Linked DNA regions of Homo sapiens: all the other regions are linked to region 1. Evidence: fine-mapped expression QTL. A gene starts in region 1. Each other region holds a variant in brackets. All regions are shown on one strand. Distances are from middle to middle.

Region 1 (2,768 bases):
ACAAGATTAAAACTAGATAAGGTCATGTGTAGGATTTTCCAAATCTTTCTTGTCATGCTGAAACTTCCAGCTCTTAAAACAGTAACACATATTTCCTTTGTCCTAAAAACCAATATTAAGTCTCCTTCCTTGGGCATAAGAATATGGATAGTTATACTTAGGTGACAGTAATGTGTGGTAAAGAGTGGGCCTTGCTGGCATGCGGACAATGACCAAATTGTATTGATCATATTTTAATCGAATACATTGCTCCACTACTGACTTGCAAATACATGATGAATTTGCTTTCTAACATATTCCAAGAAGGCCAGAGAACTGGCTTATCCATTTGGATTAATCCACTGGTGAATTTCTTTCGGGATAGGCCAAAATGGATCTGGACTATAATCTTTACATATTTAGATCCTTCAAACTAGACCAAAAAGGAAATCTGGGCTGCAAGGCTCAATTAGAAGAACAGTGTGGGATGCTGCTTTGCTGACTATTGGGGGTCGCTGCCCCATGTCTTCAGAGGAGACTGGAGCCCAGTGCCTGCCATGACCAACTTATGAGGTGAAGTAAGGGCTTCCCCCTAGGAACGCATGTGCTTAATACAGATGTGCTGTGTGCTAGGTACCCTAAGGACTACAGGAAATAATGAGAATACATGATGTGTCCATAACAAGGAGGCACACAGGCCACGGCACCAGCTCTGGAATCACACAGCCCAGGTTCGAAGCCTGGCTAGGCCACTGTCATATCAATGACCCAAGGAGCAAGCAGCCTAAGGCTTAAATGTTGTTGCTGTTGTTTGTTGTGGTTTTTTGTTTTTGTTTTTGTTTGAGACAAGAGTTTTGCTCTGTTCCCCCAGGCTGGAGTGCAGTGAGGTGATCTCAGCTCACTGCAACCTCCACCTCCCGCTTTCAAGCGATTCTCCTGCCTCAGCCTCCCTAGTAGCTGGGATTACAAGTGCGTGCCACCACGCTCAGTTAATTTTTGTATTTTTAGTAGAGATGGGGTTTCACCATGGTGGTCAGGCTGGTCTCGAACTCCTGACCTCAGGTGATCCACCCGCCTTGGCCTCCCAAAGTGCTGGGATTAAAGGCGTGAGCCACCGCGCCCAGCCTTAAATGTTGTTTAAAACAAATTTGTGAAAAGAAGTGAAGAGGCCCTGCCTGCCAGGAAGAGATGTGGTAGGGCGTAGCATCTAGTCAGGACAAGGCACCACGTCCCCTCCTCGGAAACCCTCACGGCCTGGCTGGTGACCCTGGCGCCACAGAGACGGCACACCTGGCTCCAGGCAGCACAGAGCACTGCCAAGGTCCTAGAGGAGGCTGGCAGGATATAGGTTGTCCTGTGCTTAACTTGAAGCAGATGTGCCCTCTGTGAACCGGGGAATGGGGACGGCCGACACAGGGCCACTGCGTGCAACAGCGCCGGGCCAGGGCTAAGGAACAGGCAGAGCCGGCGCCCAGGTGACAAGAGCTCTGGCGATGGGCCCGCAGGCCCCAGCAGTTCCCTCATAGAGGCCACGCGGTGCAACACCTGCCACCGGCAGCGGGGCTTCCGGGGGTCCTGGGGCAGCTGGGGCCGACGGGGCGTCGCCCTTTGCCCTCTGACCCCTGCCTTTTGCGCCCCCGCTGGCGCTCCCTGGTTCTGTGAGGAACCTCGCGGCGGCGTCGCAGGCGTAGAGCCAGTCAGTTTGTGCTTGGTCGCCAGAGGAGGCGGTGGCTGAGGAGAGTTGAGTCCACTGCTGACCCTGTTTTACGGTAGGAGGCACGGCTAGCTCTAAATGGGCAATTTACTTAGTAAATTTAGACCCGGGTGCCGCCGCCGGCCCCTGCCAGGGCCAGGGCGTGGCGCCCCCGCTCCCCTGTCCCGGGACGCCTCCCCGCCCGGTCGGGCTCACTCTGTACCCACCCCGCGCCCTTTCCGCGGCCTGTTCCGCCGGAACGCCCGTCGCAGGCCTTCAGCAGCCAGCATCTTCGTCGCCCCTAAGAGGCCGTGTCCTCTCCCTCGGGCTGCGGCCGCCCCTCTGGGGGTCCTGCCGGCTGTGGGTTGGGGGCTGGCCATCAGGAAGACACCCATGCTGCCTGCTCGGAACCCCCCGAGGTTTGGACACCCCAGTTCCGTAAGGATCCCTCCTCCCAGCCGCATGTTCACTCTCCTGCTGCCTTCACCACGTGAGCCGGCGGTCAAGGCCAGGAAGCCCATCCCAGCCACTCTCCTGGAGGAGACCGAGGTGTGGGCCCAAGAAGGGCCCAGAAGAGTGAAGAAGGATGAGGATCCGGTGCAGATCGAAGGGGAGGATGACGAGAAAAGGACCCCCCTTAGCAGCGGAGAAGCATCGTCCACATCCAGGTCCCAGGGCACCCAGGGAGACGTGGCCTCCTTCAGATGCAGCCCTGGGCCTCTGGAGGGAAATGTCTACCACAAGTTCTCAGAAAACAGCATGAGTGAGAAGGCCCAGGCGTCTCCAGCGAGCTCCTGCTTGGAAGGCCCTGCCATGCCCAGCACACACAGCCAGGCCGGATGTGCCCGGCATCTTGGAAAGCCTGATCCGGATGCAACAGCGCCCCCTGAGCCAGCCGTTGGCTGCTCCCTGCTGCAGCAGAAGTTGGCTGCGGAAGTGCTGAATGAAGAGCCACCGCCCAGCTCCCTAGGCTTGCCGATTCCGCTGATGTCCGGAAAGAGGATGCCTGATGAGAAGCCTTTCTGTATTCCTCCAAGGAGCGCTGCTCCTCCCAGAGCTGCCCGCAACAGGCCCTGCAAAAGGAAAATGTCGATTC
Region 2 (2,768 bases), 280 kb before region 1:
GGTTACAGGAGTAAGTTTTTTAGTGGTGATTTGTGAGATTTTGGTGCACCCATCACCCAAGCAGTATACACTGCACCCTGTTTGTAGTTTTTGATCCCTCACCCCCTTCCCACCCTTTTCTCCTGAGTCCCCAGAGTCCATTTTGTCATTCTTATGCCTTTGCATCCTCATAACTTAGCTCCAACTTATGAGTGAGATCCTACAATGTTTGGTGTTCTATTCCTGAGTTACTTCACTTAGAATAATAATCTCTAATCTCATCCAGGTTGCTGCAAAAGCAATTAACTCATTCCTTTTTATGGTTGAGTAGTAGTCCATTACATGTATATATATATATATGTGTGTGTGTGTGTGTGTGTGTGTATATATATATATGTGTACGTATATATATATGTATACGTATACATATACATATATATGTATATATATGTATATGTATACGTATATATATACATATATATGTATACGTATACGTATACGTATACATATATATGTATACGTATATGTATACGTATACATATATATGTATACGTATACATATATATACATATATATGTATACGTATACATATATATCACAGTTTCCTTATCCACTCATTGATTGATGGGCATTTGGTTTGGATTACTGTAAACTTCTAATTATTGTCAGATGCCCGTACGGAACTTTTCAGACCTGTGACCACTACATTCATATCAAGACAACCACTTTCTAGGAGAACTCTGAATTGGAAAAATGTTGAGTTCAGGTGTGTTGGTCATGTGAGACACGGAGGAGGCCACTCAACAGAGCACATGAAATAACGTAAGCGGTGTATTTCTTACAGGTGAGGTTCACGGGCACCATCGCAGGCTCTACCTGACACAGCAAGTATTCTCCAGTCTGCAGATTTCTCAGTCTTCACTTATTTTTTGTGAACTTGACTTTTTTGAAAAGTACAGGTCAGATATTTTGTAGGTTTTCCCACAATATGAATTTGTCTCATGATTTCTCACGATTAAACTAGGGACATAAATACATTAAAACCATGCATGTATGTTTGAAGACCAGAAAAATAAACATTATAGATATTAGAAATATAAAGATAGAGGTAAATATAATAAAC[A/G]CAAATTAGAGGATAACAAATAATTCACAGTAATAGCTACTTTCAGTGATTGAGGAAGATGGTGAAGCTCAGGAGATGCACTAAGGGCCATCAAACATATTGCTCATGTTGTTTTATAAGGTCAGCAGTGACTTTAAAGATAAAGAAACCTTATAAATTTAAGAATGGTTTTAGGTTTACAGAACAGTTGTAAATGTAGTACATAGAATATCCATATATCCCACGAAGTTTCCATTTTTATGAAATTCTTACATTAATGTAGGACATTTGTCACAAGCAATCAGTTTTATAACACTATAACTACTCTTCATACTTTATTCATTTTTTTTAGTTTTTACTTAATGTCCTGTTTCTATTCCAGAATCTCATCCAGGATACCTCATCACAGGTACATGTCATGTCTCCTTAGAATTCTCTGACTTTCACAGTTTCTCGGAGTTTCCTTATTTTTGATGACATTAATATTACTAATGTGGGATTCCTCTGATGTTTCTCTAATGATAAGACTGGATTCGTGGGTTTAGGGGAGGAAGATCATGAGGAAAACTATCATTTTTATTGATTTAATTTTGAGACAGTGTCTCACTCTCTCGCCCAGGCTGGAGTGCAGTGTCATGAGCTTGGCTCACTACAGCCTCCATCTTCTGTGCTTAAGGATCCTTCCCTCTCAGCCTCCAGGGTAGCTGAGACTGCAGGTATGTGCCACCATGCTGGGCTAATTTATTGTTGTTGTTGTTTGTTAGTTTTTTTGGTAGAGGCAAGGTTTCACCATGTTACCCAGGCGAGGGTCAAACTCCTGGGCTCAAGTGATATTTATTTTGTTATAGAGATGGGGTCTTTATGTGCTGGCCAGGCTGGTCTGGGATTACAGGCGTGAGCCACTGTGCCTGGCCAAAAAGTGCCATTCTCATCATATCATACCAAGTGTACAAACTGTCAACAAGAGTAGACATTCATTATTGGCAGAATGTCTACAAATTCCTTTAAACCTTCACCATAAACATGTGCCTATTCTTTTCCAATTATTTCATGTGTATTAATGTATTTACTTATACATGCATCTTTTATTTATATCATTATCTAAATATGGATATTTATTTTACAATGCATATGTGCTATTTTTTTTTTTTTTTGAGACAGAGCCTTTCTGTGTTGCCCAGCCTGGAGTGCAATGGTGCGATCTCAGCTCATTGCAACCTCTGCCTCCTGGGTTCAAGCGATTCTCGTGCCTCAGCCTCTCAACTGGCTGGGATTACAGGCATGAGACACTACACCTGGCTAAGTTTTGTATTTTCAGTAGAGACAGGGTTTCACCATGTTGGCCAGTTTGGTCTCAAACTCCATACCTCAGACGATCCACCCTCCTTGGCCTCCCAAAGTGCTGGGATTACAGGCATGAGCCACCATGCTTGGCCACTATTTTTTTTTAATTGCACAAAGTGTTCCAGTGTTGGCTATTGGAAGATTTTTAAGTTGTCTCTTGTATCATTTTGAAATACCTCCATAACTAAAGTTTAATGTTGTGTGGTTGGTTGGTTTTGTTGTTGTTTGGCATTTTCTTTTGTTCAGTCACTATTATATGCTCCAGTCTGTGAATTTAATTGTGCTCCAGGGTAATTTGGTAATTTTATAATTTCTACTAATGTTTCTAACACCATATGACCTA
Region 3 (2,768 bases), 74 kb before region 1:
AAGTTAAATCAAGTTGTTCAACTTTTCCTCAGTAATAGACCAGAATACATAAGATGAGACACCATGATTTTATACTGAGAAAGAGGCAGTCACAAAGAAAAATAGTGTGTTTTATTTGTTTTAAAGGGCATATTTGTACATCTTTCAAATAGAGATGTATCATAAAATTAATGTTGTTAAAAACACGATTGGTCAGAAGACAGGCATAATTTGATTGCTTTTTTGTGCACACATATAAACTTGGTGTAAAAAACACTTCCATTTTCACATTCTGGTGATATCGTTAAACATTAGAACTTGCAGAGTGATATTGGTAGATCAGAAAAATAATCTAACAGAAAGTTTTATGGTACTCTCGCAATAAGTGTGGCATCAGCAAAGCTTCTAGTCATCAGAGATGATGCTAACATAAGAGAAATCATGGACAAGGTGAATTGAAAAGTGATTCAGAAGAGTTTGATCTAAGTATGTGACATTTTAGAAAACACTTGTTACCTATTTTCCTTTCTTTTTTTATCTTATGTGATCATAGGAGTGATATAAGACCATTACCCACATTTATGTAAGTTCAAAATAGTTATTTTCAATATATATGTATTTTCTAAGTGATAAAAAGTTTCTGTGTTACAGTTTTTCAATGGTTTTGTGTTTTTATTGTGACATAAAATAATGTTGTATTTTTATAATTGATGCAAATGATACTTACAGGTGCTTGTGATAGCAACAAAAGGCAGAGAAATTCTAGGCAGACAGAGGTCCCTAGTAAAGCCCCACCCTCAAGCAAAAAAGCCTGAGACTGTGGTCCAAAGTGCGAACTTATATACCTGTTTTCCTGCTTGAATGTTACCTTTTCCTAAACCACCCATGGCCCACCCCACCCCATCCTGTGCCTATAAAAACCCTAGACTCAGCCAACAGAGAGAAGCAGCTGGACATCAGGGACTATGGCTGGATGTAGAAGAGAAGCAGCTTGACTTCAGAGGGACAGCTCGATAGCATAACTTCAGATAAGAATTCAGGTGGAGATGGCCAGCCTTCAGGGGAAGATTACCTGCCTCCCCGTTCCCTCTTCAGCTCTCCTTCTCAATGAGAGCCATTTTATTAGCAATAAAATCCCCCACATTTAGCATCCTTAAATTTGTTTGTGCAACCTCATTTTTCCTGGATGCCACACAAGACCTAGGGAGCCTCAAGTGTGTATACAGAAGGCTGTCACACTGGCCCTTTGCCCTCGCTGGTGGAGGGCAGCCACCTCACATGAAAAGGCAGAGGGCCCACTGAGCTATTAACACTTAGGCCACCCGTGGACAGCAGAGCTTAAAGACAACTGTAACACACCCTCTGTGAAAAAAAACACACACACGTATTCACATGCTGTCGTATAATTTTTTTTCTGAAAATACATCTTACTTTCCCTAAAACTTTGCATGTATCTAGTAGATTTAACTACATATATTAATTGTAATTTTAACTGTCAGCAACTCTGATTTTTAGTGAAAAACCTAAGAAGTAAGCATTGTTTTTTTTGTTTATTATCAGATGCAAAGCCCAGGACAAAAGGCAGAGATGCAGATAATGTCTCACCCTTCCCAGTACAGTCAGAGGGCACAGTTGGGCTAAGAACTCCACATATCCCTTGG[A/G]CTTACTATGGCTACAAGCAAGACAAGTCAAATAATTATTACCAATATCACAGGAGCAGTTTACAGCCTTAAAGCATCTAGCTAAAACAGTATCTGACCTGCTTGACTATTCAGACAAAATATTTAAATAATTCTAAAGACATTTAAATTTTATTTTTACCAAAAATTTTATGTTTTTGCCTTTTATTTTAGGTTCGGGGTACGTGAGTAGGTTTGTTTTATAGGTAAAGCGTGCGTCATGGAGGTGTGATGCACAGATTATTTCATTGTCCTGGCAATAAGTGTGGTACCCAAAAGGTAGTTTTTCAGTCTTCTCTCTCTTCTTACTTTCTACCCTCAGGTAAGCTGTAGTGCCTTTTGGTCCCTTCTTTGTGTCCATGTGTTCTCAATGTTTAGCTCTCATTTATAATATGTGAGAACATGCAGTATTTGGTTTTATGCTCCTATATTAGTTTGATGAGGATAATGACCGCCAGCTCCATCCATGTTGCTGCAAAGGACATGATCTATTCTTTTTATTGCTGCATTGTATTCCATGGTGTATGCATACCACATTTTCTTTATCCAGTCTTCCATTGATGGGTATTTAGGTTGATTCTATGTCTTTGCTGTTGTGAATAGTGCTGCAATGAACATACCCTGCGTGTGTTTTCATGGTAGAATGATTTATATTCCTTTGGCGTATACCCAATAATGGGATTGCTGGGTCGAATGCCAATTCTGCTTTAAGTTCTTTGATAAATCACCACACTGCTTTCCATAGTGGCTGTACTAGTTAACATTCCAACCAACAGTGTATAAGCATCCCCCTTTCTCCACAACCTCACCCAGCATCTGTTATTTTTTAACTCCTTAATAATAGTCATTTTGACTGGTGTGAGATAGTATCTTATTGTGGTTTTTGATTTGCATTTCTCTAATGATTAGTGATGTTGAGCATTTTTTCCTATGCTTGTTGGCTATGGGTATGTCTTCTTTTGAAAAGTGTCTGTTTATGTCCTCTGCACTTTTAAAAAATTTTATGTGTGCGTGAGATAGAGTCTCACTCTGTCACCTAGGCTGGAACCCAATGGTGCAATCATGACTCACTGCAGCTTCAACCACCCATGCCCCCAAGTGATTCTCCTA

Direction of the effects. Alleles are on the strand shown, and positions count from the first base shown. SD is a standard deviation of normalised expression in the study named.
In carriers of allele G in region 2, the expression in fetal neocortex of the gene that starts at base 1,679 in region 1 tends to be lower than with A alone (large effect, 0.81 SD a copy in Walker 2019).
For the expression in thyroid of the gene that starts at base 1,679 in region 1, A is the high allele of the variant in region 3 and G is the other (small effect, 0.33 SD a copy in GTEx).

What was found. PIP is the estimated chance that this variant, and not a neighbour inherited with it, causes the effect. A credible set is the group of variants that fine-mapping cannot tell apart.
Region 2: its variant is the best candidate, but not a certain one, in a credible set for the expression of NPAP1 in fetal neocortex (Walker 2019, PIP 0.72).
Region 3: its variant is the best candidate, but not a certain one, in a credible set for the expression of NPAP1 in thyroid (GTEx, PIP 0.50).

What each region holds. Positions count from the first base shown.
Region 1 is chr15:24,674,097-24,676,864 of GRCh38, forward strand. It overlaps NPAP1 (nuclear pore associated protein 1), which reads left to right and starts at 1,679. Exons shown (of 1, transcript NM_018958.3): 1 at 1,679-2,768. The coding sequence starts at 1,772.
Region 2 is chr15:24,395,367-24,398,134 of GRCh38, forward strand. All of the region lies in intron 2 of LOC105370733 (a long non-coding RNA gene), which reads left to right. Among named protein-coding and RNA genes, the nearest start is that of PWRN3, 44 kb to the right of the region's middle. The variant A/G (reference allele first, on the strand shown) is at 1,103.
Region 3 is chr15:24,599,800-24,602,567 of GRCh38, forward strand. No RefSeq gene overlaps it. Among named protein-coding and RNA genes, the nearest start is that of PWRN1, 43 kb to the left of the region's middle. The variant A/G (reference allele first, on the strand shown) is at 1,641.